Regions from separate parts of the Homo sapiens genome. Here all the other regions are reported to be linked to region 5. Evidence: microRNA targets listed by miRTarBase, many of them from high-throughput screens and not tested one by one. Region 5 holds a microRNA gene; each other region holds the end of a gene's coding sequence. Distances are between the middles of the regions.
What was found. Region 5 holds the annotated microRNA hsa-miR-6758-5p (UAGAGAGGGGAAGGAUGUGAUGU, at 2,086-2,108, shown strand). A microRNA usually pairs through its seed, bases 2 to 8, with sites in the 3' UTR of a target mRNA and lowers its output. Matches are read on the target gene's strand: a 7mer-m8 pairs with bases 2 to 8, a 7mer-A1 pairs with bases 2 to 7 and ends in A, and an 8mer does both.

Region 1 (4,211 bases), not on the chromosome of region 5:
AGATTTCAGCCGGAGCTCCAGCCTCAGAAAACACGAGAGAATTCATACAGGAGAGAGACCTTATCAGTGTAAGGAATGTGGGAAATCCTTCAACCAGAGCTCAGGCCTGAGCCAGCATCGGAAGATCCACACCCTAAAGAAACCTCACGAGTGCGATCTCTGTGGGAAAGCCTTTTGTCACAGGTCACACCTCATCCGACACCAGCGGATCCACACTGGGAAGAAACCATACAAATGCGATGAGTGCGGGAAGGCCTTCAGCCAGAGCTCCAACCTCATTGAGCACCGCAAGACCCACACTGGCGAGAAGCCCTACAAATGCCAGAAGTGTGGGAAAGCCTTCAGCCAGAGCTCCTCCCTCATTGAGCACCAGCGCATCCACACCGGTGAGAAGCCCTACGAGTGCTGTCAGTGTGGCAAGGCCTTTTGCCACAGCTCTGCGCTGATCCAGCACCAGAGAATCCACACCGGCAAGAAGCCCTACACCTGCGAGTGTGGCAAAGCCTTCCGGCACCGGTCAGCCCTCATTGAGCACTATAAAACCCACACCAGAGAGAAGCCCTACGTGTGCAATCTGTGCGGCAAGTCCTTCCGGGGGAGCTCGCACCTGATTCGCCATCAGAAGATTCATTCTGGGGAGAAGCTATAGAAAGAGGAGCCCACACAAAGCTTGAAAGCCTGTGCCAGATGGAGCCTTTATTCCACGTCGCGTGGTCTCCAAGACCCCACCTACCTCCCTGATGCTGAATGGAAACCTTCCCACCTAAGCGCTCTTGAACATCCCACTAGCAGGAAGGCCCTGTGTGGCCCTGGGCCAAGCACGCCAGCTCTCAGCAGGTTTTCTGCATGGAAGGGAAGGTGGGGTGATAGGGAGGGCAGCCAGAAAAGACAGCTGGCCTTCAGTTTCTCCTTCTTGCATTTGACTCCCAAGCCTACAGGATTTCATTTTGCCCTGTCTTCACATTTCCCAGAATCTAGAAGAATAAATGCCAAGAGGGAGAAAGTTGAATTAAACCCAGGAAAATATCAGAAGAACTCTTTAAAACAGGCTGCAGTCTGGCACTTTTAGAAGACAGAAACCACACTCACAGTCCAAAGCAGTAGAAGAAAAATGAATTCAAAAGTAGATGTGTCAGCAGCAAAGTAGAATTTTCTCACTGCGTTGGGCATTGGTGGGGACAACCAAAACAGGTCTGCAGAGCAAAGGCAGGTCTGGAGGGTGGGTCTTGAGATTGGGGATGAGGGTGGTGAGCCCCTGGGCGTGGCCTCTTAACCCTCTCCTTAGCCCTAGGGCAGTTTCCCTCAGACAGCTCTGTTACAGGAGGATAGAGATTTGATCCTGTTGGCCAGAGGATGTTTGACACCCAGCCGTGACTCAGCCTGGACACCGGACATGACTGCCCTCCAGGAATAACCCCTCCCTGAGACATAGTGTCCCCAAGACCACAGTGTGCCTTGGACATCAGCAGGGCCTGGGTCTGGTCTGTTCTGGCAATGATGCAGCCCTCCTGCCCCAGTGTCAGGGGACCTGGGAAGCTGGGTGGCTTGTTGGAGGAGGCTGTGTTCTAATCAGAAGGTCTGGGTTCAAGTCCTAGTTCCACCCCCTCCTACCTGGGTGAGCTTGAACAAGTCCTGTAACTTCCCCAGGCTCCATTCCCCCATCCAAGAGTTGGGGTAATGGGAACTGGCCACGTGCCTCTAAGGGTTGGTGCCAGGCTGTCATTCAGAACACAGCCACTGTGAAAGTGCTTTGGCAACTGTGAGCAGTCATGGTGACTGAGGACAGAGACCCAGAGTGACCCCTGCCCCACCCCTGTGCATTTCCACGGACTGGAGAGATGTTCCCGTCTGGTTTCTGAGCAGTGGGACCTCTCATTGAACAGGGCTTTCTCTCCCTCCACCCCTTGCAGCCTGGGCTGTGTATGCCTGCGGATGCAGTGTCCCACACAAGGACACTTCCTCTAGGATGCCATCCTGAGCCTCCTGTAGCAGCAGTGTCATTCTGCACTTCCACATTCTGTCTGTCTTCCCCGCCTGCCAACTAGGAGTTCACGTGGGGCTTGTTTAAACAGTACCATTGCTTGTGTCCCACCTGGACCAGTTCAGTCAGCCCCAGTGGTGGCATGTTTTAAAGCTCCCCAGGTGATTATAACTTCCTAGTGTGCAGCCAGGCTGTGGGCCCTGTGCTGGGCTTTTTTTTTTGAGATGGAGTGTTGCCCTGTTGCCAGGCTGGAATGCAGTGGCGTGATCTTGGCTTACTGCAAGCTCTGCCTCCTGGGTTCAAGCGATTCCCCTGCTTCAGCCTCCTGAGTAGCTGGGACTACAGGTGCGTGCCACCATGCCTGGCTAATTTTTTGTATTTTTAGTACAGACGGGGTTTCACCATGTTGGCCAGGATGGTCTCGATCTCTTGACCTCGTGATCTGCCCGCCTTGACCTCCCAAAGTGCCGGGATTACAGGCATGAGCCTCCACACCTGGCCCATGCTGGGTTTTTGTGCATCCCTCGACAGCTTCCAATGTCAGCCTGCTGGCTTTGGCTGAGCAGAGCTTGAAGGCCATTCTGTCTCAGTGCCCTCACTCCCTGCTCCCCGCACCCGGAGCCTCAGGGATGGGCTCAGGCTGATGGTCAGCTGGGCGCTTGGAAAGTGTTTGGCTGGGGCCTTGGGGATCTCTTTAGTCCTGGCTTCCCTTGGGCTCCTCAGAGCTAGTGGGGAAGGAGGCAGTCTAGGCTGTTTTGAAGTTTCCTAAACATTTATGGCTGGGCTAACATGAACTCATCATGGTAACACTGGGTATTTCAGCTGATCAGAAGCTCAGCATGGCCATTATGCCTAGTTTTGATGAATAAACATGGGAAAGCCATAACTGTTACTAAGTGGGTCTTGATAGGCCAGAGATTTCCAAATGACAGATATGATGGGCTGGAGAGGTCATGGTGGGAGTTCCAGCCATGCCTCTGTCCAGCCCCTGTCTTTGCTACGTATGTGAAACATTTAACATTTAACCAGCACTCCATTGTCCACCAGAACCCTCTGTGTAACCAGTTGGACTGACTGGATGGTGCCCTGGGCATTGCCTGCAAGTGGCCTGTCATTTCAGGCCTGTCTCTATCAAGAGTGAAGAGAGAATGCTAGGATGCAGTGGGGACAGCAGGCGGCATCAAGCAGGGGTCCCTGAAAGATCTACCTCCTCTTTACACCTGCCCCTCTTCCCCACCGTTATCATCTGGCAAATGTCTGTTACCTATCTTTGGTTTCTCCCTCCCCATCCTTCCTGCACACCCCAGCCAAATTGATTTTTAAAGCATCATTTTGCACAAGTCACCACTCTCCTTAAAACCAACTTTCAGGAGCTTTCCTGCACGTAAACCCTCGTTTCAGCCAACCTGGTTTACCCACTCTGAGCAAGCCGCATGGAGATCAGGCCGCCCCTGCCCACTCCAGCATCACTCCCAGCTCATAATTCTGTGCTGTTCTTGCATTTTGAAATGTGCACTTTCTCCTCCTCTCCCTCCCTCTCTCTTTCTAATTTTTGTGTAACGTGGAGATGAAGATCCCCCCTCTCTCCCAAGGGTTAACAGATAAACATGGTAAGACCAGGTTCTTTTTTGGAAGTATGACCAGAGCCTCATTCCCTCTGTTCAAATTCTTTCCTTGTTTTATTAGTTTTTTTTTTTTTTTTTTTTTTTTTGAGACAGAGTCTCACTGTCACCCAGGCTGGAGTGCAGTGGTGCGATCTTGGCTTGCTGCAACCTCTGCCTCCCGGGTTCAAGTGATTCTCCTGCCTCAGCCTCCTGAGTAGCTGGGATTACAGGCATGTGCCACCACGCCTGGCTAACTTTTGTATTTTTAGTAGAGATGGGGTTTCACCATGTTGGCCAGGCTGGTCTCGAACTCCTGACCTCCTGATCTGCCTGCCTTGGCCTCCTGAAGTGTTGGGATTACAGGCGTGAGCCATGTGCCCAGCCAGCTTATTAGATTTTTTTTTTTAAACTCTCTCATTCTATTTAGATTCTCAAACAGTGTAAAGTTATAAAAGATCATCCCTGGCAATATTTTAATCAATTATCTTTTAATTTAGTTGTTCTTTGTTTTTGTTGTCCTACCTTTTTTTTTCTTTTTTCTTTTTTCTTTTTTTGAGATGGAGTCTTGCTTTGTCACCCAGGCTGTAGTGCAGTGGGGCGATCTCGGCTTACTGCAAGCTCTACCT
Region 2 (4,211 bases), not on the chromosome of region 5:
ATGCTGAGATGCTGGCAGGGCAGACAGCATGGGGACTGTGCTTTCTGGCCTATTCCATGCGGGCTTCCCAAACAACTTCCTACACTCTTTTTATGCGTGCCTATTTCCTAATTTTTCAGTTTATAAACTAAACCTATTTAGTGCTTGTAAAAATGAGTTGAGGCCGCCAGTGGCTCACGCCTGTAATCCCAGCATTTTGGGAGGCTGAGGTGGGCCGATCACTTGAGGTCAGGAGTTCGAGACCAGCCTGACCAACACGGTGAAACCCCACCTCTACTAAAAGATACAAAAATTAGCTGGGCGTGGTGGCGCATGCGTGTGGTCCCAGCTACTTGGGAGGCTGAGGTGGGAGAATCACTTGAACCTGGGAGGCGGAGGTTGCAGTGAGCAGAGTTCCCACCACTGCACTCCAGCCTGGGCAACAGAGTGAAACTCCACCTAAAAAAAAAAAAAATGAGTTTAGCATAAGAAGGCAGATAAGATGAAGCTATTTTCATTACTGTCTTCTACAATGCTGGAGAGTGGAGAGCAGACTAGTCCCAATCCTTTATTTTGTGCACGGGGAAAGTGAGAACTAGAGATGTTCAACGACTTACAGTCTCCACAGCAAGATCTGGGTCCCTGTACCGCTTAGTGGTGAAGGTCAGGCTAGGACCCATCTATCGCGTCTCCAAGGTCTGTACTCTGGTGTGAGATGATTCAGGCAGCAGGACTGAATGTGAGTTGGGTGCCTTAAAACCCAATACCTGGGATAGAATGTGGTACATACAGAATTCACAGTTTGAAGCAGTTGTTTGTTTTTCCCTACTGAGAAGATTCTGTGATAATAATGGGACTTGGGAGCATTCTGGATTGATTCCAAAGAGCAACAGGGAAATTTTAGTTAGAAAAGGTGGTAAAAATATAGGAGCAAGTGGACTATTTCCTAGGTTTTCATTTTTGTACAAATTTTCATTTTCCTTCTACTGTAGGCGAAATGAGATGCCAGTTGCGTGTTTAGGTGCCAGTGGCCTGCTACACTGATACAACTGAGAGTTTCTGTTTAATATCCTGGCTGTTTCTTAATCTCCAGCTAAATCTGGAGCAAGCTATACAGGCCACACCACATGCTTTGGAAATGATTTGAGCTCTCTTAGAAAATCAAGGTGATGAACAGTCTCAAGGAGGCAGGGAAGAGTGCACAAAAGGTGGGAGAGGTGGTGACCAAGAAGGTTTGTGACCACAGACTGTCCAGGAGATGAGAAAAGATCCCTCTTAGGCCACCAAGGATGCTTGGATTAGGTAACAAGTAGGCCAAGAACGGTCCTTCTGCAGGGGACACGGATGGCAGGTCTCATGAAGTAAGGTTTTGCTGGTTTATCCTATGCTGACCCAACCCAGTGTTCAAATAAAATTCTGAATAACTGTGCTCTGCAGCTTGGGAGATGTTTTATGCATTTAGACCCCAGAGCAGACATTAGAGATATTTTGAAAAGTAAAGGTAGTCTAGTTAGCAAAGTGAACTATCACAGAGGACTAGAGACAGCGATGCCCATGTACATTTCTATTTTTCTTTTGATGGGTTGATGGAGATGCACTCCTGGCTTTTGCAGTTATTTCTGCACATGCTGCATTCAACTAAAAGACCTGCTCAGGTCCCCAAATGTCTTTTTAAAGAAGACAAATCAGGGAGAGATAGGTGGGAAAATGGGTACATGTGGAAGAAGAAAAACATACAGGGTACTTTCTTGGGTTGTTTGACTGCTGTCTTTGTTCTCCAATAAAATGATAGGAGGCAGAAGTGAGAGAAAGTTGTTTCTTTCCCTGTGCGGTTGGTATCTTTCAAATGCATCTTGTCTAGCCTTCAGTGATTTTTCTTCTTCCTGCCACCTTTGCAGTTTTTGGTTCGGGTTTTCCTGATGTTCTAGCCCTGATCACAGACCCCCAGGGAACCACCCTCTTCCCACTGCCCCCAACACCAGTCTTCCCCCCTCTGCAGACCTGAATTACTTCAAGGGGAAGTCGATTAATGGCTTATGTTAATGAAAGAAGCTTTTCACTTAGTCTGAGCTCTGCGAGGGATCATTAGGAAGGGGAGGGGGAGGCAGGGGGGCCTCAGGGGAGTTAGGACATCTCTGAAAATAATGATCAGTGGAAACAAAAGCTTTCCCTTCCTGGAGGCCCCAAGCTATGGCTTGCCTGAAAATGCCTATAATAAGTAACAAGAATAAACCTCTATCGAGGCAGTTAAAAAAGGAATATTGTTTAAATATGGGATTTATTCCTGGCTTCTGGTCATTGGCTGCAAGTCTACAAGGAAGGTTCAGATTTCAAAGAAGAGGTGTAAAAAGGACGAGCCTGGGGGAAGGGGAGCCTGAGAGGCGAGAAGGTCATGTAGCTGACAGCGGGCCCGTGGGAATGTCCTGGCTGACCTCTTTCTTCCAAGCCCAGGCAGATTCCAGAGGTAAAATGAGCAGTCAAACAACCACAGGGAGATGGTCTGTCTGTGAGAGGGGCCCTCAGGAGTGCAGGCGGGCTGTGATTTTACAGGGAGCCAGGAGCGCATTGAGCAGTGGGCCAGCCCTGGGGAAGCTAGAGGGACAAACCCTCTTTGCTGATGCCAGCTGGGAAGCTGAATGTCAACTGCGGGCCAGGTGGGGTGGGGGTCCTGGCGGGCCAGTCCCACAGCAAAGAGGTACTGGAAAGAGGTACCATTTTGTATTTCCAAATGGCTCTGGGTGTGAATTTCTTCCTAATTTGCAATTTACAATTTAGCTATCCACTGGCAATCTCTAGACTAGAGACAGTGTGGGTAAGTGGCAGAATCAGGTAGGCAGACAGTTTTTAAGAAGCAGCTTTCTTTCCCTGAATCTGCTGTCTGGCAAGACCAAGGGCAGCTGAAGGAGTGGGAGTGGTAAATGGAGGCAGAAGCTCTCTCTCGGATCTCTGATTTTCAAACATTCTGAACCACATGCCACAGTCACAGATACTGTTACAGTTCTTTTTCCTCACACTTTTCAGAGGTTTAATTGGGCTTTCTGACAGAAATCTTGCTTATGCAGCACACTCAGATTTTTGCTGCTAATTGCAGAGCTTTTATTTTTCTTGTCAGCGGTCACCTTAATTGTCTTGCCCCAAAGAGCCCCACCCAGCCCTGTTTGGTGCCACATGGTTTTCTTTGAAAGGCTCTGCTATAACAGTGAGAATTACTGGGTGTCCTTTTCTAAGTAAACAGGAAATATCACTCTGTTAGAAAAAAAAAAAAAAAGAATCCCTCTTCTCAGCACAAATGCAATAATGTGCCGACTTATATTTCCTGTTAATGTTAAATTAGGAGCAGGATCTATTTCTTACACCAGCCCAGTCTTCTTAGCTTCTAAACTTTCAATGAGCAGAACCCCAGGGAAGCCTGGCTGCCTAGGGCATTTTAGAAATGCTTCCACTGATTTGCGGGAGGCAGTAGCATCACAGTTTGGAAAGATAACAATGCATTCAAACAAAACAAAACAAACAAACAACCTGTGCAAAATCACAAAGGGGCAAGATGATATGCTTCTAAATTTTAAGTCACAGCACGTGTTTATGTTCTGATACTTGATCACCTTTCTATATAGGAAAACTCTGAAGCCTTGAGTCAGGAAGGAGAATTGACCCAGGGCAGGAGGAAGAAACGCAGGAAGGATGGCTTTTTTTCCCATTACATCAGAACCTGGGTTCGTGTGTCAGGCAGGCACAGCCCAACGAGTCCTCCACACACGAGCACAGTAGAAGCCAGCAGGATGGGGATTGATTTGGTGATGCTGACCAGAGAGCCAAATATTAAGTTTCCCAGGACGGCTGCTGCCTTGCATAGCGCATTTAAGAAGCCAAAGCCTGTTGCCCTGCAAAGGAAAGAGACATGAACAAGGTTGAGAAAATGCCTCCCCATGATTCCAACTTTAGACCAAAAGATCCTAGATTTTCAATGATCTTCCCTCAGATTGTGTTGTATATCAGTGGAGCAAATCAATGCTTGTTAGCAAATCTGGGAGTAGAGAATCCTAGCTGTTGGTATTGTTCCTCCAGCCCTCTGTTGACTTTCTTACCATAGCTTCCATTGACTCTTACTCTGCCTGTAAGTCCCAATGTATTGTGAACAGAAAGAGAGAAAAAATTGTAGGGAGTACGAAACATCTCTAGTGGTTTAACGTTGTTGGAAGGAAGGGTCTTTTTCATTTTTATAGAGATTAGGT
Region 3 (4,211 bases), not on the chromosome of region 5:
AATGGCTATTCTGCCGAGTGCAAAATGTGCAGTATCTCTCTGTCTGATCTGTCAATTAACTCTGGGTCTGGCCCACCACTTTGGGGGTGGTCCTGAGCAAAGCAGCCTCTAGCTCTTGATTCCCTCCAATAGAAAGCATGTTCCGGGCTCTGTAAAGATCTTAGCAGACAGCAGCTGCCAACTGTGATGCCAAGATGTGTGTGGGGTGTGAGTGTGGAGTTTTGTGTGTGAGACTGTGTGCACATTTGCATTAACGGACAGACACAAGGGTGTTTGTGAAGGCAAAGTATGCATGTGCGGGTCTCTGAGCTTGTACACACAGTGCACGTGTGTGTGATTGTGTGGCCATGAGTAATTTTGGTGACCAGAGTTATACAGGAGAATAGTTGTGGAGCCCAAATCTCTGGAGTTGTTCCCTCTTTCCTGCACCCAAAAAAGTTCAGAGAAATGTGTGCCCAGATGGAAAGAGATCCCCAGAGAGTCTAAGGAAGTGCCATCAAAGGACACATCTTTCCTAAGTTTACGTCTTTTTCCTAAGTGCCTGTTGAGGGAGGAAGATGGTTTAGTTCTTTCCCATGACCACCTGCTTTTTACCCTCAAAAACCACCATTTTGAGCCGGGCGCAGGGGCTTATGCCTGTAATTCCAGCACTTTGGGAGGCCAAGGCGGGCAGATTACCTGAGGTCAGGAGTTTGAGACCAGCCTGGCTAACATGGTGAAACCCCGTCTCTACTAAAAATACAAAAATTAGCCGGGTGTGGTGGTGCATGCCTGTAATCCCAGCTATTCGGGGGGCTGAGGCAGGAGAATCACTTGAACCCGGGAGGCAGAGGTTGCAGTGAGCCGAGATCATGCCACTGCACTCCAGCCTAGGCGACAAAGTGAGATTAGTCTGAAAAAACAAACAAACAAACAAACAAACAAACAAAACACTATTTTGGGCCAAGAGGCAGTGGCTCATGCTTGTAATCGAGCACTTTTCGAAGCTGGGGCAGGAGGATGGTTTTAGCCCAGGAGTTCGAGACCAGTCTGGGTAAGATAACGAGACCACATCTCTATAACAAAAATTTTTTTTAATATTAGCCAGGCATGGTGGCATGTGCCTGTAGTCCCAGCTACTAGGGAGGCTACAGTGACAAGACTGCTTGAACCCAGGAAGTTGAGTCTGCAGTGAGCTGTGATTGTGCCACTGCACTCCAGCCTGGGCGACAGAGAGATCCCATCTCAAAAACAACAACAACATCATTTCCCATCACAGTAAGAAATAAAATCCCTAGGGCACAAAGGCTGAGGAAATTCTAGTCATGGTCAATGGTTCCAAAAGAGAATTCCACATTTCTGGAAAATAGTTTATTAATTCATTATAAGGACAGATACATGAATCAATGCCTTAGCTTAACACTAAAGAGTATCATATTTGTAAGGAGAAAAAAAAAACGCTGGAAGGATAATTAAATAGTACAGCATAAACTAAATACAGACAAATAAATGAGCAAGTACTGATTACACTTGTCATGCATCAAGAAAAGGAAGATTTTTAATTGAGACTCAGAAAACTTAAGGCATCAATGGTAGGTGACAAAGGGATTAATACCCTGTAAAAGGCCAATAGATTCTTTTCTAATAAAAATACTGCTACAAAGACACAAACCTAACACTTCCAAATTACCCAGAGCCCAAATCATATATAGTGCTAGTGAGAAATGGCCACTTTCTTATCAACTGTGAGTTATAGGCAGATACCAGATTTATTACTTATTTGCTTTTGAGAAACAATTTTCCACCCAACCTAATGGGTTATAAATTGTCTCATTTGCAGCTATTTAATTTAAACCAGAACCTCAGTGCCTGTTAAACAAGAACATGAAAAATGACTATGTGGTATAATGCTAAGAGCCTACTGTTAAAACAGCCATTTAATTCAGGGCAGTTTTTTTTTCTTCTTTAAAAAAAAAAAATCAAACCAGCAAAATAAAATGAGGCTTTTGACCTTCAGAGCAATGATGAAACATACACAGTGGTGTTAGCCACAGCAGCGCTGAATGCTACAGAAATACTACAAGTGACAATTCTGTCTTTAACGAGATACAAAACCAACATTAATAATCTTTAGTGTTATCATAGGCTGGCTGAAGGAGGGGGAGGAGGTGGAAACGTAGGTGCAGACATCAACAGTGAGTGACACCCGAGTATAATAAACACAGATGCTTTCAGGGTTTGAGGAAGCCGCAACTGTGCTGAGAGACATTCCACCATTTAAAAAAAAAAAAAAAAAAAAGGAAAAATGGACTGGTTATTTCGAATTTGGCCCAGAAGGCAGAGTTAACTCTTGATGTGCCAATCAGACATCATTAGGGAGTAAAGACCCTAACATTCTATGCTCCTATGAGAGGGCTGAGGTGAAAAACCAAATAAATGACATTGTTTTCACTACACAGAAAATAGAAGTCAAGCTTGTCCCTGTGCGGCAGGTGAACAGAAAATGACTTGAGGATTCAATTTAAAGAAAAAACAAACTGAAATGAGCTACCCCTTTTCCTGTGCAAAGACCTCCTTGCCAGCACCCCAGAGGGTGAGATTCCTGTCATCCCCAATCCAGATCAAGTCAAGCCTCACAGGGTGGGAAGGGCCTCCCTGAACTCTCACTCCCCTTCTCTTCCTTTAGCTTCTTCTGGAAGAGAGGCCCAAATCATCTCCATCCAGTAAACTTGCCCCCCTGCATAGAAGGGAGGGCATCTTTTTATTCTGAGCCTCTGGATCACAGCCCCCTTCCCTGTCTCAAACATTCCCCTCTATGACTTGGATCCATCCATGGAGAACCCTTGGATCCCAATCCCAAAGGCAAGATGCAGGGAAGCCAGAAGATCTTCTCCACACCCGCACTGGGCGTGGGTGGGCTGCCTGGGGCAGGGCAAGCAGAAGCACTGAGTGAAGAGGAGGCAGGAGGATGGCAGGCGAGTGCGCGGCAGCCGCGGATACAGGAAGGGCACGGGGGCCTTGAAGCAGACATGAGGTAGTCACGTTGTTAGAGAAGGATGCAGAGTTTGAACCCAGGCAGGAGAACAAGATGACATAGTCTGGGAGAGGTGTGAGAGATAGCAGAGGAAGGAAAACAGGAGAGAGGAAAGGAAAGAGTATCTGGGAGCAGGAGAAGGGCACTGGTGCTGGGAGAGCGAGGTGACTGGGAGACAGAACACTAGAGCAGCCAGGGGCAAGGAAGGAGGGGAAGAGTGAGAGAAAGCGGATTTTCAAAACCAGGCACTTCCCAGATTACAAAATTAAATGCAGAGTTGCTCGGAGGGGAGCCAGGGCCACCCTCTCTATTTGGGCAATAAGGAGCTGGGAGGTGATGCAGCTGAAATGCCAGGCATTCAGAGCCTGCTTGCACCCAACCCAGCCAGACAGGAGAATGGGCTGGGACTGTCTTTGTCAGACAGGCATTGGAGACACTCTCAGAGTGTGTAATAAAAGGCTGGGCGATGGAGGTGGGGGCCCACAGGGCTGGGGACTGACCACTGTGGGGCACCGTTCTGACCTGGAGGACCAATCAGGCTGTAGTGACCACTGCCTGGGCCACGGTTTCCCAGCTCAACAACCAGTACGCATACATGCACTTCACACATGTGCACATCACATGTAGCTATGTCTCGTATGTCTTTCACATGTCACATGTGTATCACAAAGAGTATGGGGGGAGTGAATAATCCATGTTTTCCTCTCCCCTCAGCCAAAGCAACTTAGGAAGCTCCAAAGGGCTTGATGATGTATCTACAGGCACACATGTGGACATACACGGCCACAGGTATCGCATCCTATGTGATCCATACCTGCCTGCCCCAAACCACATCCTCTGGGAAGAGCTAGGCAGAGGAGGAGACCGGGGATCTGGGCAGGCCTGGGCTGGCTCCTAGAGGGCAGGGGGATTTGAGCTGGCAGCTATCTCCAGGGGTCTCCTCTAGCACCTCGCCTGGCTGGAGGTCCGGGTAGGAGCAGGAAGCACTGGCTGCCTCTGGCAAGCAGGTAAGTCTGTCTGGCCCGGGGGCTGCCAGCTCACACCCTCCCAACTCCCTGTCCAGCCAGGCTGCCCCCTGCCCTGGATCCCCAACACCCGAGATGAGATCAGGAGCCTCTGGAGGCAGGGGGTCCTCAGGCTCCAGGTCTTGGAGATGGAGGTCAGGGTTCCCGTTAGATGCACTAAAGTCAGAGTGGAC
Region 4 (4,211 bases), not on the chromosome of region 5:
GGTCACCAACAAACCCAGAGCTGCCTCAGCTTATGCAGTTGGAGATGTCAAATGCTTAGGTAAGAAAAGTTCTTTATGCATTAATATTCTTTTTCTAACATGTAATATTTTTTTCCCATCAGCAAGCCTTGACATATTCTGCCATCTTTTACTGCTGTCTAGGCCTAGGCAGTTTATGTGACCAACCAGAGATGGATGAATGGATGCTTTCAGCAAACATTTCTGAGTACTGATGACAGCCTGTGAGCAAGACAGGCATGCAGGTTCTTTAGCCGTATGAAAAGAACTGATGTCCAGGGCTGTGGGAGAATGGGGAGAACAGGAGCTGCTGGACTCTGTAAAGTCTCTAACCTGGATGACAGTCTTCTGAATTCATATAGAAACATCCCTTTTTGCAAGTGGCTGGTGTCCCAAGGCGTAATCTCATACAACATGAATGGGTATGTTTAGGAAAAGGTTTGCATGAGGGAAATGGCTTGAATTCATTCTCTCCCTCACCTCTTTTTAACAATGCAGTTATGGATGTACAAGCATTCGAGAGGCTTCTGGGGCCCTGCATGGACATCATGAAGAGGAACATCTCACACTATGAGGAACAGCTGGTGAAGATGTTTGGCTCCAGCGTGGATCTGGGCAACCTCGGGCAGTAGGTGTGCCACACCCCAGAGCCTTCTTAGTGTGACACCAAAACCTTCTGGTCAGCCACAGAACACATACAGAAAACAGACATGACAGAACTGTTCCTGCCGTTGCCGCCACTGCTGCCATTGCTGTGGTTATGGGCATTTAGAAAACTTGAAAGTCAGCACTAAAGGATGGGCAGAGGTTCAACCCACACCTCCACTTTGCTTCTGAAGGCCCATTCATTAGACCACTTGTAAAGATTACTCCAACCCAGTTTTTATATCTTTGGTTCAAAACGGCATGTCTCTCCAACAATTTAAGTGCCTGATACAAAGTCCAAAGTATAAACATGCTCCTTTCCTCTCTTGCTGCTACTCTTGCTTTTGGAAGTTACCACAGGGTCTGCAGAAACCTGTTGTATAACTGTAGACACTCTCTAATGGTTCTCAAAGGAGGAAATGTAGCCTTCAGTCTCCTCATTTGTCCTTTGAGGAAGTCCACATTTGTTCACAGTTGCAGCCTTTGGTTTTACAGTGGGAAATGGTGGTGGATGATATGGACATATGTAGCCCAGTGGCATTGTACTTTCTGCTGACAGCTGCACACATTACAGCTGTCTCCAAACCCACAGTGATGCTTAGGGAAAGACCCTGCTCAGGACCCAGCAGGTCAGCACCCCAGAGCAGACTGATAGGTCCGTGGGACCCATGTTAGAGCAGAAAATTTGGGCTCAGCACATTTTACTGTTAGTAGAGAGCCAGGAAACGTTTTCTGGGTTGGGGATTTTGTGGGATTTTTTAATTTTTTTAGTAGGTTTTGTTTAACCTCTGTGCAGTTTGTATGAATGAATTGCTATACATTTATAAGGAGCCAGGGTCTGGAGGGTTGCTATCACTTTGTCCAGCCCAAATACCTTCCTGGGCAACTCCTACCATTTGTTTGCAGTTGCCTCTACTAGCTGATGGCAGTATGCTGGAAAGAGGTTGTACTATAAAGAGAGTTCTTTCCTTCTACTCCAGAGTTGTTGTGTAGCTTTGCCATTGAACCGATCAATTTTTAAACTCTTTAAAGAAGCAGCAGCTATTTTTTTGAAATTAAAGAAAATTCTCAGGCCAGGCTCAATGGCTCATGCCTATAATTGTAGTGCTTTGGGAGGCTGAGCTGGGAGGATCGCTTAAGACCAGCCTAGGCAACAGAGTGAGATCCTGTCTCTACAAAAACAAAAATTTTTTTTTTGTTTTCTTTTTGAGACGGAGTTTCGCTCTTGTTGCCCAGGCTGGAGTGCAATGGTGCGGTCTTGGCTCACCGCAACCTCCGCCTCCCAGATTAAAGTGATTCTCCTGCCTCAACCTCCTGAGTAGCTGGGATTACAGGCATGCGCCACCATGCCGGGCGAATTTTGTATTTTTAATAGAGACAGGGTTTCTCTGTGTTGGTCAGGCTGGTCTCAAACTCCCAACCTCAGGTGATCCGCCCACCTCAGCCTCTCAGAGTGCTGGGATTACAGATGTGAGCCACTGCACCTGGCAAAAAAAAAATTTTTTTTTAATTTGTCAGGTGTGGTGATGCATGCATGTAGTCCCAAATACTTAGGAGGCTGAGGTGGAAGGATCACTTGAGCCCAGGAGGTCAAGGCAACAGTGAGCTGTGATCATGCCACTGCACTCCAGTCTGGGTGACACAGTGAGACCCTGTCTCTTAAAAAAAAAAAAAGAAAGAAAAAAAATTATTCTTTAGGTAATTTCACTTGGACATATTCATGTATATGGAGTTTGTCAGCTGACTCAGGCATTTACCCTAAAGATCAAATCTGTTTTCAAAAATTGGCATTGGCCAGGCACGGTGACCCACACCTGTAATCCCAGCACTTTGGGAGGCCGAGGCGGGCGGATCACGAGGTCAGGGGTTCAAGACCAGCCTGGCCAACATAGTGAAACCCCGTCTCTACTAAAAATACAAAAAATTAGCTGGGCATGGTGGTGGGCGCCTGTAATCCCAGCTACTTGAGAGGCTCAGGCAGGAGAATCGCTTGAACCTGGGAGTGGAGGTTGCAGTGAGCCGAGATTGCACCATTGTATTCCACCCCGGGTGACAGTGCAAGACTCCATCTCAAAAAAAAAAAAAAAATTTGGCATCATTTACAATTTCATAGAATTACTGTGAAGGCCTTTCTAGTTGAGATGTTGGGGTATTTGGGATTCTAATTGTTAACCCCAGAAGAAGGTAATTTAGCTTGTATTTATTTAAAACCCATTTAGCCTTTTACTTATATCTGGTAGAATTCCAGTGATCATCCTAATAAGGTATATTTCAGAATAATTTTTTTTTCCTTCAGAATAACTTAGAATCAGATGCTATAAGGGCTCCTAGGAGCAGTGTGAAATTTCCGTAAAGATAAATTTGAATGTTGTAACCAAGTTTATATTAAACCAAGAGGCCATTTCCAATATGATTTTTTGTTTCTTTTTAACTTGTTAAGTCCCTAAGAGATTACATGCTAGGGCTTGAGTCATTTCTATTGTAGATAATGATGGCCCACACAGTCACCTTCAACTATCCACATAAGCTAGGCTTTCCGCTTTTGCCACGGACAGTGTGACCAAGATATTTCCAGAGTAAATAACCCACCACAACCTTGGTAATTCCTCTTTTCTTCTTAAGCTCCAGGAAGCGAAAGCAGAAGGACTCTTTTCAGACTGCCCTCTGTAGCCTACATTGCAGCTTTCCAAAACAGGCAGCTAGCACTGGGAAAGCCCATGTGGTGACCCCATATTTTTCTGAGGTTCTTCTTTTCCATGGTGTTACTTTATTATCAGAAAGTAAATTCAGAAAACAGGTCTTGCCCTTAGCAGACAAGAACCACACCAGTTTCTTGTAAAGGTAACGGATACATTGGGATTCAGGAGTGACACAGAGGTCCAGCCCCAGAACTTGTAAGGATTTTGTTTGAACACTGAGCAGATGCCTCCTCCCTGCCACCCATCACACTAGTTAGGGCTGGCCATGAATTCTATGCCAGAGTCACTCCTGCAGTCTGCTAGGGATGGGCCTTCTTATCCCACTCTCGCACACATCCCAGTCTAGTCTTTGCCTTCACAGAGTCCTCCTTGACACCCCTGACTTAATGATAGTTGCTGTTTTGGAGTAGAATTGATCAGGTTTAAGTCATCCTGCTCAGGTTGGGCATAGTGGCTCATGCCTGTAATCTCAGCACTTTGGGAAGCCAAAGTGGGAGGATTGCTTGAGCCCAGGAGTTCCAAACCATCCTGGGCAACAGAGGGAGACCCTGTCTCTACCAAGAAAAAAAAAAAAAAAAAAAGTTAAAAAAACAATTAGCTGGACCTGGTGGTGCACACTCAGTAGGCTGAGGTGAAAGGATTCCTTTAACCTGGGAGACTGAAGCTGCAGTGAGCCATGATCGTGCCACTGCACTCCAGTCTGGGGGACAAAGTGGGACCCTATCTCAAAAAAAAAAAAAAAAAGTCATCCTCCTCCAACTACTGATTGACATATGGATCATCAGTTCAGACCCTCACTGCATACAGGATCCCTAGAGGGTTCTATTTAATAGCTTGAGGAAGGGAGAC
Region 5 (4,000 bases):
AAAAAAAAAGAAAATTTTTTTTTTCTTTTTTGCACTTCCTCAGCTGGCCATGGTGGTTCATGCCTGTAATTCCAGCACTTTGGGAGGCTGAGGCAGGAGGATCGCTGGAAGCCAGGAGTTTGAGAGTAGCCTGGGCAACAAAGCAAGACCCTGTCTGTATTTAAAAAAAGAAAAAATTGGTTGGGCACGGTGGCTTATGCCTGTAATTCCAACTTCCAACACTTTGGGAGGCTGAGGCGGGAGAATTGCTTGACCCCAGGAGTTTGAGACCAGGGTGGGCAACTTGGTGAAACCCATCTCTACTAAAAATACAAAAATTAACCAGGTGTGGTGGCACGTGCCTGTAGTGCCAGCTACTCAGGAGGCTGAGGTGGAAGGATCACTTAAGCCTGGGAGGTTGAGGCTGCAGTGAGCCATGATGTGCCACTGTACTCCAGCCTGGGTGACAGTGAGACCCTGATATGGACAAGATTAGCACATCCTCTGCACAAGAATGACATGCAAACTTGTGAAGTGTTCCATATTTTTAAAAATTAAAAAAAAAAAAATTTTTTTTAGGGACAGGATTTTGCTGTGTTGCCCAGGATGGTCATGAACTCCTGCCCTCAAGTGATCCTCCTGCGTCAGCCTTCGGAGTAGCTGGGATTACAGGCGCAAGCCACTGCCCCTGGCTGTGTGTTAAAAATCTAGTTAAGGCTGGGCAGGGTGGCTCACAACTGTAGTCTCAGCGCTTTTGGAGGCTGAGGTGGGCAGATTGCTTGAGCTCAGGAGTTCAAGACCAGCCTGGGCAATGTGGCAAAACCCTGTTTCTACAAAAATTACAGTCTGGCATGGTGGTGTGCACCTGTGGTCCCAGCTACTGGGGAGGTTGAGGTAGGAGGATTGCTTGAGCCCAGGAGGTTTAGGCTGCAGTGAGCTGTGATTATGATTGCACCACTGCACTCTAGTCTGGGCAACAGAGCAAGACTCTGTCTCCAAAAAAAAAGTTATATATTGCCAAATTGTGCTCCAAAAAGGTTATATGTGTTTATCCTTATGCTAACCATATATGAGACTTTCCTAAATCAGCCCTCTTTCTCCGTTATCTCAGCTGGAGAAGCGACTGGAGGAGTGGTTGGGGAGGACATTGCCTGGCAGTGACTGGACACCCAATGCCCAGTTTATCACCCGTTCTTGGCTTCGGGATGGCCTCAAGCCACGCTGCATAACCCGAGACCTCAAATGGGGAACCCCTGTACCCTTAGAAGGTTTTGAAGACAAGGTAAAAACCCTTTTTTATTCATATCATTCAGCCTTAGTGTTGAAACCCTGGGCTAGCAGAGTAGACTGCTGATTATGTCTTGTTTCAGTTTGAGACTTTGGATTGGTCCCTAACATGTTTACCTCCTTCTGACCTCCAGGTATTCTATGTCTGGTTTGATGCCACTATTGGCTATCTGTCCATCACAGCCAACTACACAGACCAGTGGGAGAGATGGTGGAAGAACCCAGAGCAAGTGAGCAGTTCTTGGTTAGGCTGTGCATGGGGAGGGTAGGCGGTAGGGTGTGGGTGTTAGGGTTGGGTGTCTGGTCTTCCTTGGGCCTTTGAAGGAGGTCTCAGGAAATCTCTCCTAACCACATTCCCCTAGGTGGACCTGTATCAGTTCATGGCCAAAGACAATGTTCCTTTCCATAGCTTAGTCTTTCCTTGCTCAGCCCTAGGAGCTGAGGATAACTATACCTTGGTCAGCCACCTCATTGCTACAGGTAAGTACCCTGGAAGACTACTGATGGGGTGTTCATAGGAAATGAGGGGTGAGGCAGTACTTGGAAAAAGATCTTGGAGAGCTGCTATCTTGAGTTAGGAGTTGAGCTGAAATAGGAAATAATTAAAATGAGAACTCAACCTAGAGAAACGAACAAGAACCTGAAGAAAGCAAAAGTCTAAAGCTAAAACTCTTTAGTAGATATAAGCAAAGAGAAAAAAGGGCCAGAATGGATAGGAAGGGACTCCCAAAATCTGAGCATACCAGCCCCTTAAGGAGAAATGTTGCTAGACACCCATAGTTGAGGTTAGAAAGAGGAAAGAAGGAAGAGTTAGTGGGCTAGAGAGGGGAAGGATGTGATGTGAGCAGATGGTTCTCACTCATTCTCCTCTGTCCAGAGTACCTGAACTATGAGGATGGGAAATTCTCTAAGAGCCGCGGTGTGGGAGTGTTTGGGGACATGGCCCAGGACACGGGGATCCCTGCTGACATCTGGCGCTTCTATCTGCTGTACATTCGGCCTGAGGGCCAGGACAGTGCTTTCTCCTGGACGGACCTGCTGCTGAAGAATAATTCTGAGCTGCTTAACAACCTGGGCAACTTCATCAACAGGTAGGACTTGGTAAGGGGTCAGAGTTAGCAGTGAGCTGGGGTGGGGCTCATTTTCCCTCAGGAGATGGGAATGTGGAGAGAACTAGAAAATGGGCAGGAGGCTGTGAGGACACTGTGGAAAGTTGATTTCTATTAATTGGGATCTGTTCCTAGCACATACTAGGCTATGTGTGCTTGATGGAACAGTTAGCTGTAGAGATGTGATTTAGCAAAGTTGGTTATAAAGTGGGTTTTTGTAAATTGTTTCCTTATTACTGTTCTTTGTAGAATTGAAGATGTATTCTCTCCCAGCAAAATAGTTCACCTGCAGATCATTGAAAAGTTTGGCTGAAGAAAGGGGTTATTTTGGTGTGGGGGTAGGAGGCTTCTGTGGGCTGGGCATGGTGGCTTACATTTGTAATCCCAGCACTTTGGGAGGCTGAGGCAGGAGGATCACTTGAGGCCGGGAGTTCAAGACTTGCCTGACCAACATAATGAATCTCCCATCTCTACAAAAAGAATCAGCCAGGCGTGGTGGCGCACACCTGTAGTCCCAGCCACTCAGGATGCTGAGGCGGGATGGTCTCTTGAACTTGGGAGATTGAGGCTGCAGTGGAGCAGTACTCGTACCCCTACACTCCAGCCTTGGCAAAAGAGGGAGATCCTGTCTCAAAAAAAAAAAAAAAAAAAGGCTTCTGCTATACTCTTCAGAGTTCAGAGTTTTTGTTACCTTAGGCTCACATTCTATCATTGGTGCCTATCTCAGCTCTTCTGCAATCTAAAGCAGTATTCTCCAGAATTTAGGATTCTTTAGTCACACTCTCTGAGCCCTGGACCCTTATAGGTCAGTCCTGCTACTCACTTTCAGCTTTGGTAATTAACCACATTTAATAAATAGTCCTTACCTACAGGAGTTCGAGACCAGCCTGGCCAACCTGGTGAAACCCCGTCTCCACTAAAAATACAAAAAGTAGCCGGGCGTGGTGGCGCACATCTGTAATCCCAGCTACTCAAGAGGTTGAGGCAGGAGAATCACTTGAACCCGGGAGGCAAAGGTTGCAGTGAGCCAAGATCATGCCACTGTGCTCCAGCCTGGGCAACAGAGTGAGAATCCTCAAAAAAAAAAAAAATTAAAAAAAAAAAAAAGTACTTGCCTAGAGTGTTTGTTTGATAGCAGTTAACACATACTCAGCTTGGTCATTTTGAGTAATGACTTTTTTTTTTTTTTTTTGAGATGGAGTTTCTCTCTTGTTGCCCAGGCTGGAGTGCAGTGGCGCGATCTTGGCTCACTGCAACCTCCGCCTCCCGGGTTCAAGCAATTCTCCTGCCTCAGCCTCCAGAGTAGCTGGGATTACAGGTGCACACCACCACGCCCGGCTAATTTTTTGCATTTTTAGTAGAGACGAGGTTTCACCATGGCCAGGCCAGGCTGGTCTTGAACTTCTGACCTCAGGTGATCTGCCCACCTCGGCCTCCCAGAGTGCTGGGATTTTAGGCGTGAGCCACTGCGCCCGGCCGAGTAATGACTTCTTAAAAATAAGAGGTACAGTTGTTTAACTTAATCAGGTTTCTTATGTGCAGAGTCAGATTCTTAGGGGAGAGAAAGAGTAAATAATTAGGCCTTGTCTACTAGCTTGAGGGAGCCAGGAGTTACCTGTTCCAGG
Region 6 (4,190 bases), 51 Mb from region 5:
CCCTAAGCTGTGCCTGGGAGATCCCTCCCTCCTCCTGGGGGCTTCCCCATTCCCTGGTTTGGTCTAAGCCGCAGTGGCAAGCATTCCAGAAAAATGCTAAGAGAAGCCTGGCTGAGTCATTTGATGCACAGCTCAGGAGGCAAAGAAAGGATGGTGATGAGACGCTGGTTCCAGTGGTGGCTGTGATGTGTGACCTCGAAGAACCTTCCAGTTCCCAAAAGGACAGCATGGCCATTGTTTTTTTCTTGGCTAGTGACTCTGCTGCAGCTTTCTGAGGACCTCTCAAAGCCCCACAGTCTCTGTTTCAACTACAGGAGAGAAAAGTTAGGGCTTGCTCCCCAGGGCCTTACGACTCTTCATGGCTAACGTGACAGTGCAGTATCATTTGGGAGAATTTTTTTAGTACAGTTCAGAGTCTGGAACAGTCTCCTTCCTCCTCTGTCTTTCCTGCCTTCTGACTTTCCATGGGGAAAGGAGGACATTTAGGAAGAGGGAACAGGTGAGGATTTCCAGTACCTTGCTGGTGTATTTTAATTTATTTAAATTTAGAGAAACAGTGGTCTAATCAGGCAGTAATTAATTCCCTCTTCATTAGGGGCCTTCATGTTTGCCTTTTGCATATGGATGAGCCACGGGTCACACTGTCCCTTTGAAGAGAGATCCTTGCTGAAGGTGAGAGCCCAGTGTGCTCTCCGGCACTTGAGCTCCTTCCCCTTCTGTGCCAATGCTTCTCTTTTCTCCCCACCCTCACCTGACAAGGACTAGATTCCTGTGGGGAAAGAAGGAAAGGTTAATGAAGCTTCCTATCCCACCCTCCTTGGATCTGGATCCCTCCCTCACGGCCCACAGTGTATACCATCCATGCCTCATCCTGTACCCTCAGGTTTTATCCAGCCCGCTCTCCCATCAGCCACCTGCTGGGATATCTTCATGCCCCCAGTGAGTTGACTCCTCAGAAGCTTGTTTGCCGGGCACCTCTGCTTTGAGTTGGTTCATCAATCCTTGGCCCAGCTCTGCTTCTTTCCCTTGTAGCAGTCCTTTTCTTAGGGAGTGTGACGCCCTGAATGCACACACTGCTCTAATCCTGAGAAATACACTGCCTCTTCCTGGCACTCAGCATTATGTGCTGCACAGGCTCAGCCACACTTCCCTCAGCTCACAGTAAAGCTCCCAACACCTAAAGCACACACCTACCAACACACAGACATTCCTAACCTAGCTTGAAAGATAAATGCATGGGGGCATATCCAGTCCAGAGCAGCCCAGGCCACCCTTTTGTACACTACATCATCCCTATCCTCCCTGGGGCCACCGCATTTCCAGGGAGCAAGTGGGGCACAGATTGGGGGAGGGGGGATAGATGGGACCTGGGTGGTTACCATAGCAATAGAGCCTAGCAACAGCTGAGAGGCTGATGTGTGGGTTTTCACAGGGCTGTTACAAGAGCCAAACCTAGAAATTGGGGACTGAGAGGTGACTGATCCCAGCTGGGCAGCCTGCATTCCCTCCCCAAAAACACCCCTTGATCCCACCCCCACACCCCTGCAGTGCCTCTCTCTGAGAGGGCAGAGTAGGGAAAGCTAACGAGTTAACCACAGGGCTTCTGATTCTGCACAGCTTTTGGGGGGCAGCTGTGGGTGGGGGCAGGTTAGGGAGCAAAGCTGAAAATAAACCAAGCAGGGCAGCTTCTTTCGGATGGCTGGCTCCCTCTCATCTTTTCTCCATTGCTCCATTTTTCTCTTCTCCTTTCCCCCTTCTCCCTCCGTCTGTCTTATCAGGTCTCTCTTCCGCCTTGATCCACCTCCTATCCTTCCATGTAACTTTCCTTTTCTTCTGTCTCCCTTTTTTTGGTCTCTCTTGACCCTCCCTGGCAAGGAATAAGTGAGCCACGATTTCTATTCTAGTTTCTCTCTTGTACCACTGCTCCTCGTCAGGATGGCTCCCTTCCATTTTGTCCCAAGTTAAAGCCCCAGTTGGCCCCCAGCTCCAGGTCAGAGGAGGGCAGGTGACTTAGGTCTAGAGGGGGTCCCCACCTCATCCTGTGCCTCCTCCTAGCTGCCCACCCCTCTCCTCCTCTCTACGGGGGTCAGAAGGCAGAACCAGGGGACTCGAGTATCTTGCAAAGGCTTTATTTGAAAATTTTGAAACTTACATCCCACAGTAATTCAAGATGATCACCACAAGAAGAAGAAAGAGATAATACAAAAATATATATCACAGCCTAGGAGCCAGGGAAGAAGGGAAGGAGGAAGGTGGAAAAACCAGTGAGAAGGAGGGAAGAACCTGAGGAGGGGGAAAGGGCAGGGAAGCAAAAGGAAGGAGAGTGGAAGGAAGGAGGGAGGAAAGGAGGGGACAGGAGGGAGTCCGGGAAGGGAAGGGTAGACTTGGAGGCAGAGCTCCCGATGGCCTTGAACCAGCTGACTCCGGTCCCTGGCAGCCTAGGTGGAGTTAGGGAGGCCCAAAGGGAGGCTGGGAAGGGAGGACTGGCTCAGGGGGCTCTGAAGTCCAGAGAATGGCACACACACAGACAGCCAGGACAGACAAGACAAAAGGGACTGTAGGAGAAAGGGAAGGGCAAATGGGAGTCCCTTTCTCATGTAGTGCAGCAGGCGACTCCCCAAAACCCATCTGTCAGAAAACAGATTTTAGCAGTGGGCTGGGGGTGAAGTCTGGGGCCTCACTACCCCATTCCCAAGGGGGAGCCCTCAGGGTGATGCCGGCATCCTTGGAGTAGGATGGGGAGACAGAGAAACAAATGGTGTGGAATGGGACGAGACCATGACCGATGAGGGCCCAAGGAGCCCCCAGCTCACCTCCCACCCACCTCTGGAGCAGCACGCAGGGGCTGCGGAAACGAGGTGGGTGGGTGTTCATGAGGGAGAGAGTGAGCACGCCGCACACCACCACAACATCAGGCCGGGAAACGCACATGAGAGGTAAAGTGTGCAGGAAACGCTGACCACTGAGTGAGCTGAGCACAGAATGTGGGAAGGAGAGAGTGCAAATGTGAGACGAGAGAACATGAGAGTCAGCTGAGCGGAGCGGTATGGACGGGGAGAGGGTGCAGGAGCGTGTGCAAATGGCCTGTGAAGGTGGAGGTGAGTGTGCAAGGCTTTCATGTGAGTGCACAAGGGTGGGGACAGGGACCCGAAGTCACAGATATGTGAGGCCCCCACCTGCAGGAGGGCGAGCAGATAGGATTGCCCGTGGGGCTGGGGAGTGTTCCGGGTGGTGTGCAAGGGGCAGGAGCCAGGAGCCCCTGTGGCCCCAGCTCCCCACAGCTGCCCCACCCTCAGTGGGATGGGGGCTGTGCCGGCCCCTTGGCCTCCTGCTTGGCTGCACCCCAACATTGGGGGCATCACAGATTCACCAGGGGAATCCTGAGAGGAAGAGGGAAAGGGCACAGTCAGGAACCAAGGGGTAGGCCAGAATAGAAGGGGAAGTTCAAGACAAAGAGGGGGAATCAAGGTTAAGAGGGCAGAGTTGTCTTAGACAAGGTGGCATGAGAAAAAACCAAAGAGGGCAGAGTTGGAGTTATGGGCAGCAGAGAATAGGACACAGATCCTGAGAGACTGGGAGAAGGAAGGGTGCCTCCCAGAGAGGAGCTGGTCCAGCCCCCTTGGGAGGGCCAGGGGCTGTGGGAGGCCACGCCTGCCTCCTCACTACCCATCCAGAGGGCACCCCCACCCCAGCTCTGAAGACCTAAGTTGCCTTCCCTCTTTGCCCTCCCATCCCATTGCCCCTGCCCTCACCGGTTCAACTGGAAGGCTGGAGCCCCCTTGGGGTGGGGCATCCCAGGCCGGGGTCCCCCTCGGGGCTCCTCATGGTCAGGGGTGGGGGTAGGTGAGTCCCCGAAGGCCCCCAGCACAGTGACTCCAGCCGGGGACAGGTCTGTCAGTGGCTGCTGGCTCTCCTCCTGCCTCAGGGCACCTTGCTGCCCTGAGGGTCTGCGTCGCTTCTGGCTGCGGTCCCAGCTGGGGTACCAGAGGAAAAGAGGTTCTCTTGCACACTCAAGTAGCCCCCATCCTGGGCCTGCACCAGTGGTCACCCCCAGCCTCGCCCAGTCACTCCCAACATCTTATAGCAGAGAAACTGGCCTTTAACAGTTCTCTCTACTAAATCCCCTGGGACTCTGTGCCCATAAAGCCACTTCCCCTGCCCTCTAGGGGAGCTTGGTAATCTAAACCTCC
Region 7 (4,211 bases), not on the chromosome of region 5:
TCAGTTCCTTTTTGAATGCTATGTTGTAATTACCAGTGACTCATTCATCTGTACTCAAGTTTTTGGATATAAATGAAGGTTAAATATGACTCCGGTTAATTTAATGCTTTAACTATACCATACCAACCACATCACTAATACACTGTCAAGATGCAATCTTCCTTTCTTACTAATTACATTAACTTGATGAGTCACTTTTCTTTAGTTATTGCTTATATTGCCTTTTAATATTTATCTTTGCTGAACTAATTCTCCCATCTTTTTAATAATTCATTTTAATTCCTGATTTTTAAATACTTAAAAGGGTTATAACAAAGGTTATTTTCTTTATACTTAGTCTGGATAGTACAAAAAAATTTCCATCATAAAATTCTTTTTTTTTTTAAAGGAATGATTGTGCTAGAAAATGAAACAATTTTTTTTTTTTTTTTTTTTTTTTTTTTTTTTTTGAGACAGAGTCTCACTCTGTTGCCCAGGCTGGAATGTAGTGGTGCAATCTCGGCTCACTGCAACCTCTGCCTCCCAGGTTCAAGCGATTCCCCTGCCTCAGCCTCCCGAGTAACTGGGATTACAGGTGCCCACCACCACGCCTGGCTAATTTTTGTATTTTTAGGAGAGTATTTGTATTTGTAATTCATGTATTTTCACCATGTTAGCCAGGCTGCTCTTGAATTTCTGACCTCAGGTGATCCACCCGCCTTGGCCTCCCAAAATGCTGGGATAACAGGTGTGAGCCACCACACCCAGCAATACAATTTTCAAAAGGAACCCCGTCAAGATATTCCTAGTTAAATATACACATAACCAAATGTACATTTGTATATTTTAGAGAAAATAACATAATTTTTGTTATTTTAATTGTAGCAACAGAGTCTAGCTATGTTGCCCAGGCTATTCTTCAACTCCTTAAGATGGCCTTAAGTTGCCTCAGCCTTCCAAAGTGCTGGGGTTACAGGCATGTAACTGCACCCAGTCTAGAGTTTTCTTAAATCTTTTTATTTATTTATTTTTGAGACAGGATCTCACTATGTCGCCTGGGCTGGTTTGAGACAGGATCTCACTATGTTGCCTGGGCTGGAGTGCAGTGGTGTGATTATGACTCACTGTACCCTCAAGCTCCCAGGTTCAAGTGATGCTCCTACCTAAGCCTTCTGAGTAGCTGGGTAGGGATTACATAGGTGTGCACCACCACACTCGACTAATTTTTGTATTTTTTGTAGAGATGGGTTTTCGCCATGTTGCCCAGGCTGGTCTTGAACTGGGCTCAAGCAGTCGAACCACCTCAGCCTTTCAAAGTGCTGGGATTACAGGCATGAGCCATGGAACTTAAATCATTTTTGAAACATAGTTAATAATGGCCTTCTCAAATTAAGTCAGCTAGTAGAAAAAAGTCTAACATTTTACATCGAGTCCAAAGCTAGTTTGGGGGAAAAGGCTTTTGATCTTTAAATGCCAAGGGGAAAGGTATTTTATCTGTCAAGAGATGATACAATTCAGTGGAATAAAATGTGTATCCACACAGATGACTTTTGCTTCTACCAATTTTATCTTTTATAAAACCCTGACATGGCCGGGTACAGGGGCTCCTGCCTATATCTCAGCACTTTGGGAGCCAACGGGGTAGGATCGCTTGAGCCCAGGAGTTTGAGACCAGCCTGGGCAACACAGTGAGACTTCATCTTTACAAGAATAAAATAAAAAAATTAGCCAGGCATGGTGGTGTACCTATGTAGTCCCAACTACTTGGGAGGCTAAGGTGGGAGGATCACTTGAGCCCCCAGAGGTTGAGGCTGCAGTGAGCCATAATTGTGCCACCATACTCCAGCCTGGGCGACAGAGACCCTGTCTCAAAACAAAACAGGCCGGGTCAGGGTGGCTCACGCCTGTAATCCCAGCACTTTGAGAGGCTGAAGCGGGAGGATTCCTTGAGCTCAGAAGTTCAGACCAGCCTGGGCAACATCAGACCCTGTCTCTTTTTTTTTTTTTAAAGTAAAACAAACAAAAACAAAAAAAAAACTCATGATCCTTTTGTGGTTCATAAGCATGATGATTGGGTATTCACACCCACGTGTGAGATGTGCCTCCCTCAAACCTTGTTACAACTTCAACCATTACCCATCTGACAGTAAAAAAAAAAAAAAAAAAAAGTAAAATTTTAAAAATCATGTCTTATTTCAGCATCTTATATTTTTAAAAACCAATATTTTGGTAGATGACAAATTTATACCATTAATAACTTTATTTTTTTTTCTTTCCTCAACTTTTGTTTTAGGTTCAGGGGATACCTGTGTAGGTTTGCTACATGGGTAAATTGTGTGTTGCTGGGGATTCGTGTACAAATGATTTTATCACCCAGGGAGTGAGCATAGTAACCAATAGCTAGTTTTTCGACCCTCGCCTTCCTCCGAATCTGCCCCTTCAAGGAGGCCCTGGTGTCTATTGTTCCCATCTTTGCGTTCATGTGTACTCAATGTTTAGCTCTCACTGATAAGTGAGAACATGTGGCATTAATCACTTTAAAACATAGTATGACAGATATCATTTTCTTACAGAGCATCAGATATTAATATGTATGGATCACTTTGTTAAATTAACAAAAATCATCTGAAAATCAGCACAATATTTCATTTATTTATTGTATAAGTTTGGCAAACAGCACAAAAATCCAGCAACATTTAAAACATATAAAAAAGTCAAATGCTAAACAGGACTAGGGATTTTTTTTTACATCATTAGAAATAACGAGTACACATTTTAAGATTCTGCAAAGCTAGCAAAATGAAGATGCTTGCCTTCTGAACATATACTACAAACACACATACAAAAAAACAATATAATTTATCTTTACAAAAATTACAGCCAAGCAATAGAAAAGAAGGATGTTAATGATGAAGATAGCAACACATATGTTTAGTACATATATCTTACACATTGAAATGCTACATCTTATACCCTGAAATGCCATGTGTAGAGAGCCAAGCAGAGTAAATTTAGGCTCATTACTGAGGTTAAGAATTATTTGAGAAGAATTTAATTCTTATATGTAACATATTCAGTTAAAACTTTCTATATAGGAGTTGCTAGAGGATGACAATGTATCCCATTATAGATCTGAGAAGTTGAGTCTTCTTTGTTGGCAGTATAAAATTTCTGACCAGTATCAAAATTCTGGTAAAACACAAATTGAAGGCATTTTCTAGTGTATGCAAACATTACAAGGGGCATCAATGAATGTAGAAGAAAATCGTAGATTTTTCACATCAAGTTTCTGCTGAGCTTTGTCAAACCAAATAGCTCAACTATAAGGCAAGAGAAAACAACTCCCTATAACAGATTAGTGGATCTTACCAAGTAAATATAGGAATTCAATCTTAGGGAAAAATTCCCTACATTAATAGATCTGAAACAGCTGGTCTTGAAACAAACATCTAGAAATTAACGAACATCTTGACATTCAGTCATTGGTTCAGAAGCGTGACAAACAATCTGTTGGTATATATTATTAAATTAACTTTTTGGAATCAGCACCAGTCCCCAAAACCTCAAATTATAATATTTAATCTTCATTAAAATATATTTTTTGTGCTACATTAACACGACCACAATTAAGTTAAAGAAAGCTGAATTTATTTAACTTATTGTATATGTTTATGTATACTAGGTAGTGACTTAAATTTCTTTTATTTACTTGTGCTTCTGTTTTGGGGCACTTTGATTGAAGAGAAATTCAATTCACAGGATTACATCTTGCTAAAGCATTCCTTAGCATTGGTCCAAACTTGAATTCCCTAAAAATAAAAATAAAAACTTTAAAATGTGAGTTTGGAAGGAATCTGAAAACCCAAGTACTTGGCTTAGTGGTACACTAAGTTTTGCTTTTTGGAATAATTAAGAAGTCGAGAAAATATGACACTATTTTGGGAAGTGGCTAATATAAGCAAATGTCTAATGCTTCTGAAAAGAGAAACAGAATCTCTAATACGAACTTATCTTCAAAATGGAAAAAGAACTCCTACAACTTGTTGGAAAACTGAGTTAATTCATTTCATATCACATACTCGAGTAATTTCTATTTGTAAATCAAACAAGTTTTCAGTCTTTTTTTTTTTTTGGAGATAGGGTCTCACTCTGTTACCCAGGCTGGAGTATAATCATGGCTCATTGCAGCCTTGACCTCCAGGGCTCAAGGGATCCTCCCACCTCAGCCTGCC

Region 1: the mRNA of ZNF70 is a reported target of hsa-miR-6758-5p. Seed matches in the 3' UTR shown: 7mer-m8 at 3,516-3,522 and 7mer-m8 at 3,561-3,567.
Region 2: miRTarBase lists SV2C as a target of hsa-miR-6758-5p. The part of its 3' UTR that is shown has no 7-base or 8-base seed match.
Region 3: miRTarBase lists IGDCC4 as a target of hsa-miR-6758-5p. Seed matches in the 3' UTR shown: 7mer-m8 at 3,118-3,124 and 7mer-m8 at 2,677-2,683.
Region 4: miRTarBase lists PRKAR2A as a target of hsa-miR-6758-5p. Seed matches in the 3' UTR shown: 7mer-m8 at 984-990 and 7mer-A1 at 1,057-1,063.
Region 6: miRTarBase lists PIANP as a target of hsa-miR-6758-5p. Seed matches in the 3' UTR shown: 7mer-m8 at 3,597-3,603.
Region 7: the mRNA of SNX4 is a reported target of hsa-miR-6758-5p. Seed matches in the 3' UTR shown: 7mer-A1 at 2,969-2,975.

What each region holds. Positions count from the first base shown.
Region 1 is chr22:23,740,238-23,744,448 of GRCh38, reverse strand. ZNF70 (zinc finger protein 70) reads left to right here. Exons shown (of 2, transcript NM_021916.4): 2 at 1-4,211. The coding sequence ends at 649. Among named protein-coding and RNA genes, the nearest start is that of ZNF70, 8.8 kb to the left of the region's middle.
Region 2 is chr5:76,325,013-76,329,223 of GRCh38, reverse strand. SV2C (synaptic vesicle glycoprotein 2C) reads right to left here. Exons shown (of 13, transcript NM_014979.4): 13 at 1-3,860. The coding sequence ends at 3,677. Among named protein-coding and RNA genes, the nearest start is that of SV2C-AS2, 15 kb to the right of the region's middle. RefSeq lists an enhancer at 3,293-3,792.
Region 3 is chr15:65,380,149-65,384,359 of GRCh38, forward strand. IGDCC4 (immunoglobulin superfamily DCC subclass member 4) reads right to left here. Exons shown (of 20, transcript NM_020962.3): 20 at 1,336-4,211. The coding sequence ends at 3,861. Among named protein-coding and RNA genes, the nearest start is that of IGDCC3, 4.3 kb to the left of the region's middle.
Region 4 is chr3:48,748,024-48,752,234 of GRCh38, reverse strand. It overlaps PRKAR2A (protein kinase cAMP-dependent type II regulatory subunit alpha), which reads left to right. Exons shown (of 11, transcript NM_004157.4): 10 at 1-59; 11 at 517-4,211. The coding sequence ends at 650. Among named protein-coding and RNA genes, the nearest start is that of IP6K2, 33 kb to the right of the region's middle.
Region 5 is chr12:57,510,608-57,514,607 of GRCh38, forward strand. It overlaps MIR6758 (microRNA 6758), which reads left to right and starts at 2,081; the gene lies at 2,081-2,143. It overlaps MARS1 (methionyl-tRNA synthetase 1), which reads left to right. Exons shown (of 21, transcript NM_004990.4): 12 at 1,091-1,261; 13 at 1,401-1,496; 14 at 1,629-1,746; 15 at 2,144-2,357. It also overlaps the pseudogene LOC124903093.
Region 6 is chr12:6,691,678-6,695,867 of GRCh38, forward strand. It overlaps PIANP (PILR alpha associated neural protein), which reads right to left. Exons shown (of 5, transcript NM_001244014.2): 5 at 2,114-3,974. The coding sequence ends at 3,749. Among named protein-coding and RNA genes, the nearest start is that of ZNF384, 4.4 kb to the left of the region's middle.
Region 7 is chr3:125,444,039-125,448,249 of GRCh38, forward strand. SNX4 (sorting nexin 4) reads right to left here. Exons shown (of 14, transcript NM_003794.4): 14 at 2,612-3,788. The coding sequence ends at 3,741. It overlaps LOC124906351 (small nucleolar RNA U13), which reads left to right and starts at 2,023; the gene lies at 2,023-2,125.